3 linked regions of the Homo sapiens genome follow. The protein of the gene in region 1 interacts with the protein of each later gene in a pairwise test. Each region holds a gene or a part of one and is shown in the gene's direction. Other genes may lie near its edges. The genes, in order: HLCS, TXNDC15 and QKI.

Region 1 (3,653 bases):
GGCTGCACTCAGCTCATTCTACCAGCTCAGATTGCACACCTACCAGGGGCAAGCTGGGTGCAGAGCGGCAAGGGGTGTGTGGGTGAGAAGTGCAGGGTCGGGGGGGGGGGGGGTGGGTGGCTCCATGCAAGGCTGTGGCTGGACCAGGTGTACTGAATGAGGCTTTTGCTGTGGGCACCTGTGTCTGGACAAGGGGAACATGGTGGCACCTGGAAGCATGGAGACGCTGGGAACCGCAGAGCCCCAAAGAGGGTGTTTACAGCCTTGGCTTGGGGAGCCCCTAGATCTTGGCTTCTTAAAGGGCCACAGTTCTTCTCTCCTTCTTGTTGCCTGCAATGTAGTGAGTACGGGGACATGTTTCAGCCCTGGTTTGTCTTACAGCTCTTTTAGTACTGCCATTCGGTGGGTCCTGAGTTATTGTCCTGCATCCAGGAAGAATGAGGTATGTGGAGGGTGAGCAAGGCAGAGAGGAACTTCACTGAGTGGCAGAACAGCTCTCAGGAGACCTGAAGTGGGTAGCTCCTTTCTGCAGCTGGTAGTCCCAGCCTCTGTGTGAGTCTGGCTGGGTCTGAGGTTTTCATGGGCTCAGAAGGGAGGAAGCGCGTGCTGATTGGTCCATGGGCAGCCATGGGCGGGCCAGAAAAAGCACTCTAAGTTCTCACTCTGGGCCACAGGCTTCACCTGGAACTGACAGCCAGGTCCCCAGGTTTTGGGCTGGTCTTGGCTTGAAGGCAGGGCGTCACCAGGGACCCGCCCCTTTCTACCTATGAGCCTGTCTGCCTTCTGCTGTCAGTCATGTTGTCCAAGGTGCCCAGGCTGTTTGTGCTGAGGGGTGCCTACAGGCCTGCAACCAGCCGTCCTCAGCCCCTCCTCGGCCTCCCTCCCATCCTCGTGGTCCAGAGTGGCTCCTAAAGTCTAGAGGGGGGCTGAGGTGGCAGGGGGCTGGTGTGTCAGCGCCATCCTGAGCAGCACCCACCTGGCCGGGTTGCGACACCGCCCAGGCTCAGCTTCAATTTTGCTCCAGAATCAGAGCGGGCACAGGGAGCAGGAAGAGGCCAGGCAGCGGGATCAGGCACTTCCAAGCCTGTGGGGAAGCGGGGGCCTCTGGGACCCCTGAGAGTGCAGGGATGCCCAGGTCCGCAGCTGTGGCTGGGAGGCTGCAGTTATGCCTGGGAGCACTGGGCTCCTGCCCTGCCAACTCAGAAGCGGGAAGGGCTCCTGCCTGCTCCCAGCTCCCCCTGGTTCCACAGAGCGCGTATCCCTGGCCGCGCCTACCCTGCTCCAGACTGGCTGCAGCTGTCATCACTAATACTTAACGGCTCTACAAAGTATTATCATTATTATTATTGCCATTTTGAAGATAAGAAAACTTAGGTTATAAGATTAAATGACATTCCTAAAGTGATAGGAATATCATTGCTAAGTGACAGACAAAGTTTTCTTTCTTTTTTTTTTGGAGATGGAGTCTTGCTGTGTTGCCCAGGCTGGAGTGCAGTGGTGCGATCTCAGCTCACTGCAACCTCCACCTCCCGGGTTCAAGCAATTCTCCTGCCTCACCCTCCCAAGTAGCTGGGACTACAGGCGCACGCTGCCACGCCCAGCTAATTGTTTGTATTTTAGCAGAGACCGGGTTTCACCGTGTTGCCCAGGCTGGTCTCGAACTCCTGAGCTCAGGCAATCTGCCTGCCTCAGGCTCCCAAAGTGCTAGGATTACAGGCGTGAGCCACTGTTCCCGGCCTAGACAAGGTTTTAACCAGCTGCTAAGTGAGAGATAAGATTTTAACCAATGCTTCTATCCTTTCTAGTAACTAGAGAACGAATTAATGGTTTTAAAGAGATCTAGATCATTGAGATTCCAAAATAAAGCTTTTATTAACCTAGGTCCAGTCAAACAGTACTTGTGTCTCTTATGTTTGGTAGAAGACGACCAGCTGTTGATACGACGGTTTTGGTGAACTCAGGGCTAATTTTCTTTCTTTCTTTCTTTCTTTTTTTTTTTTTTTTGAGACAGTCTCACTCTGTCGCCCAGGCTGGAGTGCAGTGGCGCGATCTCGGCTCACTGCAAGCTCCGCCTCCCAGGTTGACGCCATCCTCCTGCCTCAGCCACCCGAGTAGCTGGGACTACAGGCACATGCTGCCACATCCGGCTAATTTATTTATTTATTTATTTATTGTATTTTTAGTAGAGACGGTGTTTCACCATGTTAGCCAGGATGGTTTCGATCTCCTGACCTTGGGATCCACCTGCCTCGGCCTCCCAAAGTGCTGGGATTACAGGCGTGAGCCACCGCGCCCGGCCTCTTTTTTTTTTTTTTCGAGACGCAGTCTTGCTCAGTTGCCCAGGCCGAAGTGCAGTGGCGCGATCTCGGCTCACTGCAAGCTCTGCCTCCCGGGTTCATGCCATTCTCCTTCCTCAGCCTCCCGAGTAGCTGGGACTGCAGGCGCGTGCCACAACGCCCAGGTAATTTTTTGTATTTTTAGTGGAGACGGGGTTTCACCATGTTAGTCGGGATGATTTCCTGACCTCGTGATCCGCCTGCCTCTGCCTCCCAAAATGCTGGGATTACAGGCATGAGCCACTGCGCCCAGCCAATTCAGGGCTAATTTTCATATGCAGAAAAGACGATTCATAAACTTTATTTTTATTTTAAAAATGATTTTGAATTTATTGAAAATATAAATTAAATAATCAAGTAGGTCAAATCACATGAAATTGCTAATATCTGGCTTTTCTTTTTGAACTACAAAGAGGCCTTGTCATATGGTAACTGTATTAGGCAGTTCTTGCATTGCTATAAAGAAATACCTGGAGCTGGATAATTTATAAAGAAGAGGTTCTGCGAGCCATACAGGAAGAGTGGTGCCAGCATGTGCTTCTGGTGAGGGCCTTGAGGAACAGTCATGGCAGAAAGTGACAGAGGTGCAGGTGTGTCACATGGCAAGAATGAGAGTGAGACTGAGCTGGGGGAGGTGCCACACATTTTTAAACAACCAGGTCTTGTGAGAACTCACTCACTATAGGGAGGACAGCACCACACTATTCATGAGGGATCTGTTCCCATTACCCAAACACTTCCCCCACAGGCCCCACCTCAACCACTGGGGATTACATTTCAACGTGAGATTTGGAGGGGACAAACTTCCAGATTCTATCAGTAACCAATTCCTTGGGCTTTTTTTTTTTTTTTTTTTGAGACGGAGTCTGGCTCTGTTGTCCAGGCTGGACTGCAGTGGTGCAATCTTGGCTCACTGCAACATCTACCTCCTGGGTTCAAGCGATTCTTCTGCCTCAGCCTCCCAAGTAGCTGGAATTACAGGCACCTGCCACCATACCCGGCTAATTTTTTGTATTTTTAGTAGAGACGGGGTTTTACCATGTTGGCCAGGGTGGGTCTTGAACTCCTGACCTCAGGTGATCTGCCCGCCTCAGCCTCCCGAAGTGCTGTGATACAGCCATGAGCCACCATTCTGGCTCCTTGGACTTTTATTTATTTTTTATTTATTTATTTATTTTTGAGACGGAGTCTCGCTCTGTTGCCTAGGCTAGAGTGCAGTGGCACGATCTCGGCTCACTGCCAACCCTGCCTCCCGGGTTCATGCCATTCTCCTGCCTCAGCCTCCCGAGTAGCTGGGACTACAGGCGCCCACCACCA
Region 2 (3,653 bases), on another chromosome or scaffold:
GCAGCCTGCTCACCCTCTCCAGGTGGGGGCTGTGTACCTGGGTGAGGAGGAGCTCCTGCATGACCCGATGGGCCAGGACAGGGCAGCAGAAGAGGCCAATGCGGTGCTGGGGCTGGACACCCAAGGCGATCACATGGTGATGCTGTCTGTGATTCCTGGGGAAGCTGAGGACAAAGTGAGTTCAGAGCCTAGCGGCGTCACCTGTGGTGCTGGAGGAGCGGAGGACTCAAGGTGCAACGTCCGAGAGAGCCTTTTCTCTCTGGATGGCGCTGGAGCACACTTCCCTGACAGAGAAGAGGAGTATTACACAGAGCCAGAAGTGGCGGAATCTGACGCAGCCCCGACAGAGGACTCCAATAACACTGAAAGTCTGAAATCCCCAAAGGTGAACTGTGAGGAGAGAAACATTACAGGATTAGAAAATTTCACTCTGAAAATTTTAAATATGTCACAGGTAAGGAAAAATTATTTAGTGCTTTTCTCCTTTTCAGTACATTTATTTTATGATTAATACCCTATCAACTTTGAAATGGAAAATCATGATCTTGATCATATTGTAAGCGAGATAGCATTTAATGGCTGCTTCAGTGAAAATCAACTTTGCCCTCTGTGATGTTTATAGGGAGACGAGGAAATATAACTAGTGTTGATTATGCTTTTCAGATGGCCTAAACCTAGTTATCCTTGGGCCAGTCTCACCACCAAACCTCACGATAGAAATCCCAGTGGACAGATAGTTGCTTGGCACCAAAATCATAGCATTTTTCCTTTTGAGACAGAGTTTTGCTCTTGTCACCTAGGCTGGAGTGCAATGGCATGATATCGGCTCACTGCAACCTCCGCCTCCTGAGTTCAAATGATTTTCCTGCCTCAGTCTCCCATGTAGCTGGGATTACAGGCATGCACTACCATGCCTGGCTAATTTTGTATTTTTAGTAGAAATGGGTTTCACCATGTTGGCCAGGCTGGTCTCAAACTCCTGACTTCAGGTAATCCACCCGTCTCGGCCTCCCAAAGTGCTGGGATTACAGGTGTGAGCCACCGTGCCCGGCCATTTTTCTTCTTCCAAATGAAGTATTTATTTATTACAGAGGCAATTTAAACATATCTGGATTACTAAAATTATAATTTACCATTATTTAGACTAGTAATGCCCCTGGAAAATATGTTATATTGATGAAATTTTCTCTTTCATCAATGACTGACAATTTCTGTGGGGTGGTTCAGAAAACAGAAGGGTAGGATGCATTCACACTGCTTATGTAAGAGAGGTAAATCCTGACTCTAAGAGCTGTGACTGTTGTCAGTGAGGGCACAGCACCTGTAGTGCACATAGCTCCTCCAAGGGCAGTGCTCGGCGCTGGCTTTGCATCCACTCCTGAGTGCCTGTAGATGCTGTGGTCTGTGGGACTCCCACAGGTGTCACTCACATGACTGGGAGAGAGCAGTTTAAACAGTCTGAGTTATGGATTAAACAGGTGGTGGCAGGGACGGTGTACCCTTTTTCTTTTTTTGACACAGAGTCTCACTCTGTCACCCAGGCTGGAGTGCAATGGGATGATCTGGGTTCACTGCAACCTCTGCCTCCCGGGTTCAAGTGGTTCTCCTGCCTCAGCCTCCCGAGTAGCTGGGATTACGGCACATGCCACCACGCCTGGCTAATTTTTGTATTTTTAGTGGAAACGAGGTTTTACCACGTTGGCCAGGCTGGTCTCAAATTCCCGACCTCAACTGATTTGCCCTCTTTGGCCTCCCAGAGTGTTGGGATTACAGATGTAAGATACTGTGGCTGGCTAGGACAGTGTACTCTTGAATTGATCTAACCTTTGGCCAAACATATCGATATGACTGCTTAGTTCAGACTTAGCTCTGCTGAGATGATAGTTTGGATTTGAGATCGTAGTCCTCTAATAATTCCATTTTAGATGGTTTGAGATGCACAATTCAAAGGTGGGGGCAATTGCCTGGACCCTGTGAGTACTTAGTACAGGCATACCTCAAAGATACTACAGGTTTGGTTCCAGACCACTGTGATAAAGCAAATATCGCAGTGTAGCAAATCACGTGAATATTTTGGTTTCCCAGTGCATACAGAAGTTATACTATATTGTAGTTTATTAAGTATGCAGTAGCATTATGTTTAAAAAATGTATATACCTTAATTTAAAAATACTTTATTGCTAAAAAATGCTAACGATCATCTGAGCCTTCAGTGAGTTGTAATCTTTTTGCTGGTAGAGGGTCTTGCCTTGATGTTGATGGCTGCTGACTGATCAGGATGGTAGTTACTGAGGGTTGGGGTGGCTCTGGCAATTTCTTTGAGACAGAGTATTGCTCTGTCACCCAGGCTGGAGTGTGGTGGTGAGACCATGGCTCACTGCAGCCTTGACCTCCCAGGCTCAAGTGATCCTCCCAGCTCAGCCTCCCAAGTAGCTGGGAATACAGGCATGTGCCACCATACCTGGCTAATTTTTTTCTTTTTTTTTTGTAGAGATGAGGTCTCACTATGTTGCATAGGCTGGTCTCAAACTCCTGGGCTCAAGTGATCCTCCTGTCTTGGCCCCTCAAAGTGTTGTGAGTCGTGAACCACCATGCCTGGCCCACAGTTTCGTTTCGTTTTTTTCTTTTCTTTTCTTTTCTTTTCTCTTTTCTCTTCTCTTCTTTTCTCTTCTCTTTTCTTTTCTTTCTTTTTTTTTTGAGATGGAGTCTCACTCTGTCACCCAGGCGGGAGTGCAGTGGCGTGATCTCAGCTCACTGCAACCTCCATCTACCAGGTTCAAGCTATTCTCCCACTGCAGCCTCTCGCCGAATAACTGGGATTACAGGCGTGCTTCACATGCCCAGCTAATTTTTGTATTTTTAGTAGAGACAGGGTTTCACCATGTTGGTCAGGCTGGTCTTGAACTCCTGACCTCAAGTGATCTGCCCACCTTGGCCTTCCAAAGTGCTGGGATTACAGGCATGAGCCACCACACCTGGCCTGTGGCCCACAGTTTCTTAATTCCTTTCACGAAAGAATTCTCTGTAGCATGCAATGCTGTTTGATAGCATTTTACCCACAGTAGAACTTCTTTCAAAGTTGGAGTCAATCCTCTCAAACCCTGCTGCTGCATTATCAACTAAGTTTATGGAATATTCTAAATCCTTTGTCGTCATTTCAACAGTGTTCACAGCATCTTCACCAGGCGTAGATGCCATCTCAAAAACCTACTTTCTTTGCTTATCCATAAAAATCAACTCCTCATCTCTTCAAGTTTTATCATGAGATTGTAGCAATTCAGTCCTATCTTCAGACTCCACTTCTAATCCTAGTTTTCTTGCTATTTCTACCACATCCGCAGTTCCATTCTCCATTGAGGTCTTGAATTCCTCAAAGTCATCCACGAGGGTTGGAGTCAGCTTATTCTAAACGCCTATTAATGTTGATATTTTGACCACCTGCCATGAATCACAGATATTTTTAAAGTCATCTAGAATGGTAAATCCTTTCCAGAAGGTTTTAAATTTATTTTGCCCAAATCCATCAGAGGAATTGCTATCTATGGCAACTATAGCCTTATGAAATGTATTTCTTAAATAATAAGAGTTAAAAGTTGAAATCCCTCCTTGATTCATGGGCTGCAGAATGGATGCTGTGTTAGCAGGCCTGAAAA
Region 3 (3,653 bases), on another chromosome or scaffold:
GTTATAAAAAAAAAGAAAAAGAACAAAGAAACCCTTTATTTCATTAAATGATTTTTTCTGGTGGTTGTCAAGAAACAAAAGACCAAAAGAGCCTTTTTGTCTTTCTTTTTTATTTTTTAAGTATTGGAATAAGTCTAAAGAAAAGAAAGTGCCTTATTTTCCTTCATGGTCATTCAGTCAAGTGTCTCATAAAGATCAGCTCCTCCCTCAGAATACAAGTTAATGCATGTTACTCAGTCGCCCAGTATGTGAAAGAAGATATGAGGGAGACAAATGAGTTGATAGTTTGAATTATAGGATTTTTGCCACGTTACCTTGATGCAAATTTGCCAAATCTGATACTGTGAAAAGATTTGATAACTTTTCTAATGCCTGACTAGTAAGTTTTAAAACATCATTCTTTAAAAGAATAGTTTAATACTTTTGGTTATTCCAATCTTCAATGTTAACCCAAAGGATTCTGAGATAAAAATTATGTGTCATCTAAACTTCAGTTTACAGACAAAATTAGAGCTTTGTTTTATTTGGAGAAGGGGGATGCATTCATTTGATTTTGTTTTTTGTTTTTAATTAATTGAATATAATAGGATACCTAGCAAATGTTTTCACAAAAGTGAATCTTTGTGATTTTCATTCTAGAAAACAATGTTTTAAATCACCCAAATTTAATCACATGTCTTTATATCATACCAGATAACTGGTGTAGTGTATCCTTTTACTGTTTCAATAACCTCTGCCTCCCCCACCCCTTAACTTTAAAAGAATGTGAAAAACTAGCATCATAGTGCATATAAATACTCAACCACATTTCAGCTTAAGCTTCTAATTTCTCAAGAAGTTGAAACAGTTAGTTATGTAGTTGAAGCAATTTGTGTGCAAAGCCTACATCTAAACACTTGAGTGAATAATCATTAACTGCTCAGTACCAGACGTGGCAAATCTCAAGTGACAGTGGACCCCCCCCCCCGCCCAGCTTATCAACTCGTCCCCTCTTCCACACCTTCCCAGCATCACAGTCAGAGGTCAGCAGGAAGCTGAGTCATTACCTTCTTGGTGACCTCCCCCACCATCTTGTCTCACTTGGAAACCGTTGTCAGTTTATTTACTATGCAATAGACATTCATTGTTTTGTATCCAGCTAGCTTTGGTTTAATATGCCACTGCTTTGTCTTTCTGTTACACATACAGTTTTGATTTATTTACAATATATGCTGTGCCATTTTGATTTTTATATTGTTTGGTTGGTTGAATAAATTTGCGACACTCAAACACTTGAGGTGATAGTTGTTAAAAACAATACCAGTATTTGATCCAGTTTCATCTCAACTATGTTATACCTGGACATTTTAGATGTTTATCAAAGGTCTTTTATGGGGAAGAAAGTAAATGTATGAAATAATAAATGTGTGACATTTATAGGGAATGTTGGCTCTGAACAAACTTTTGAAAACTTGGTTGACAAAATTTTGGATCAACTGAAAAAAGCATGACTTTTGAAATCTCTGAATGCCTTGGTTCTCAGTATTATCATTCTTTATTGAATTTATTTCTTATTAAAATATGTAGTTTTTAAGACTTTTTTTCTGACAGTATTATGTAATTTTTTAGCGTGGGTAGATGGGAGTGTCGCTTGTATGTTATCGTACAGCTGACATGTATTTTTGTCTATTCTTTATTATCTTAGTTTCATGCTATGTATGTACCATAACCAACCTATTGCCTATGAGAAACATGTAAGATAATGTATTTACAGCCATTGTTACAAGTTTATAATGTATTTTTCTATCTTGTTTTATATGTATGTTATATAACATTCAAAAAGAATTTTTTTCTTGATTGAGAAAAGGATACAAAATGCAAAATCCACAATTTTGATAACTGAAAATTGCCAATTGTTTTGCAGTACTTTATTATATTGGGTGTCTTGTCTTTTTTGGGCTTTTAGTTAGCTAATGAATGAATACATTAGACACTTTTGGGTTTTAGTTGGGATTTTACATAGCTTGCATTTTAATTCTTTGGTTCTTTGCTGTTTCTATTAACCCACAGCATTATTTTAATAAATGTTATAATACCAACCTACTAACTCTGGACTTTGTCTGTTTATTAACCTTTATATGTTTAATTAAAATAAACAAATAAAGACAAAAGAATGTAAAGTCTTGAGTTACTGGACTAACCCTGAAGAACGTGACCACAGATAACATAGTGTGACTTGTTTTTATGTTGTTTGTCAGCTGACAGTTTTGCACACTACTGTTAAAATGGCTTTGGTTATTCTGGTCTTTTAGCTTGGGGGCCGGGGCGGGTGTGGGTGTAGGTGCAGTAGAGATGGGAACAAAGTAGCCTTTGTTTGAGGCATTCTTCTCTTGCCACTTGCCTTTCAGCATCTGCATTACTAATTCCACACCTTATTTTTCCTTCTCCAAAATAATCACTGTCTGCTCACAGCATCGAGTAAAAAGATACATTGTCATGGTATATACCTGGAGAAACCAGTTTGATTCTTTGTTGAACCATTTCTTTTAATTTCTGTAAATAAGTAATTTTATGGTCACATTGTAAAGCAGAGAAACTGTTGATATTTTACCTTTATTTAGATTTTTGTTTTAACTTGACCTTTTTCCTTTGGAAAGCGTTGAACTTGTTTAGCTAACTACTCCTATTAGGGGAGCTTAACTTGGGTAAAGTCAAAGGCCCACTGGCTGTTTCTCATGGTGGCCTGAAGCCCCGCTGCTTTCCAGTGAGGAAAAGAACCCTCAGCACGTTACTGAGCTTTCCTCAGGTATTTTTTTCTCTGTCACCTACTTTACAAATACAGTCAGACTAAAACATTAAACAAGAAGTTTAAGGGGGAATAACATTGGGATTTGAAAAGTTGTATGTGATTAATTTCTTGCATGCAAATCAATTTAAGATTTCTTAAATATCTTCATGCTTTTCTTGGCTGGAACTTGGGTAAATTAACCTGTAATTATGAATTATTTAGTTTAACTCAAGGTGCATTTTTATTTCACAGATTGATACTTGCTTTTTTCTGTGAAACAGTTCTCCTAGATACCAAAATCCTCAGGATGAATTTTTGCATTTGTAAATAACAATTTATCTTTGTAAATTACATTTTATTTATTTAGAGTTCTAAAATTGAGGGCTGAAATGAATGACATGTAATAGAAGACAAAACTGTACCAATACGCTGTTAACCAATCAGACTGTCCAGGTATTCTCATTTCATAAATATGTATACACACATATAAATACACAGAGTAGTGTTAGCTGATGTGAGTGATAACAGCGAATCACCATTGAGATGGTCATTTGGATCATGTAAACAAACCGTGTCATGTCTCTGATGGGAGCGGTGGGTAGTGTACTGTTAGGTGGACAGGTCTTTTAACATGCTACTATTTGTAAAAGTTTCCGTTGCCATAACAGTTCATGTAGTAGTCTGTGAAAATTCGAAGCTGTCTGTCAAGCTGCTAATATACAAGTTGTCATGGTACCATGTAACTTAAATTGATGAATTTCTATGCAATTTACTATTCTCTGAAGCCTATGAATGCAGCCTCATCTCATTTTCAGTTAAGGGTACTTTATGTATAATTATGTCATTGCTGCCTTTTATGTAGGAAATGTAAAAAAGTTTTAAAAGG

The links.
Region 2: the proteins of HLCS (region 1) and TXNDC15 interact in a two-hybrid assay, tested with the Homo sapiens proteins (one large-scale study listed by BioGRID and IntAct).
Region 3: the proteins of HLCS (region 1) and QKI interact in a two-hybrid assay, tested with the Homo sapiens proteins (one large-scale study listed by BioGRID and IntAct).

What each region holds. Positions count from the first base shown.
Region 1 is NC_000021.9:36,956,592-36,960,244, reverse strand, and holds part of HLCS (biotin--protein ligase), read left to right. Parts: intron 1-3,653. UniProt on the Homo sapiens protein: Biotin--protein ligase catalyzing the biotinylation of the 4 biotin-dependent carboxylases acetyl-CoA-carboxylase, pyruvate carboxylase, propionyl-CoA carboxylase, and methylcrotonyl-CoA carboxylase.
Region 2 is NC_000005.10:134,887,729-134,891,381, forward strand, and holds part of TXNDC15 (thioredoxin domain-containing protein 15 isoform 1 precursor), read left to right. Parts: coding exon 1-454; intron 455-3,653. UniProt on the Homo sapiens protein: Acts as a positive regulator of ciliary hedgehog signaling. Involved in ciliogenesis.
Region 3 is NC_000006.12:163,571,715-163,575,367, forward strand, and holds part of QKI (KH domain-containing RNA-binding protein QKI), read left to right. Parts: 3' UTR 1-3,653. UniProt on the Homo sapiens protein: RNA reader protein, which recognizes and binds specific RNAs, thereby regulating RNA metabolic processes, such as pre-mRNA splicing, circular RNA (circRNA) formation, mRNA export, mRNA stability and/or translation.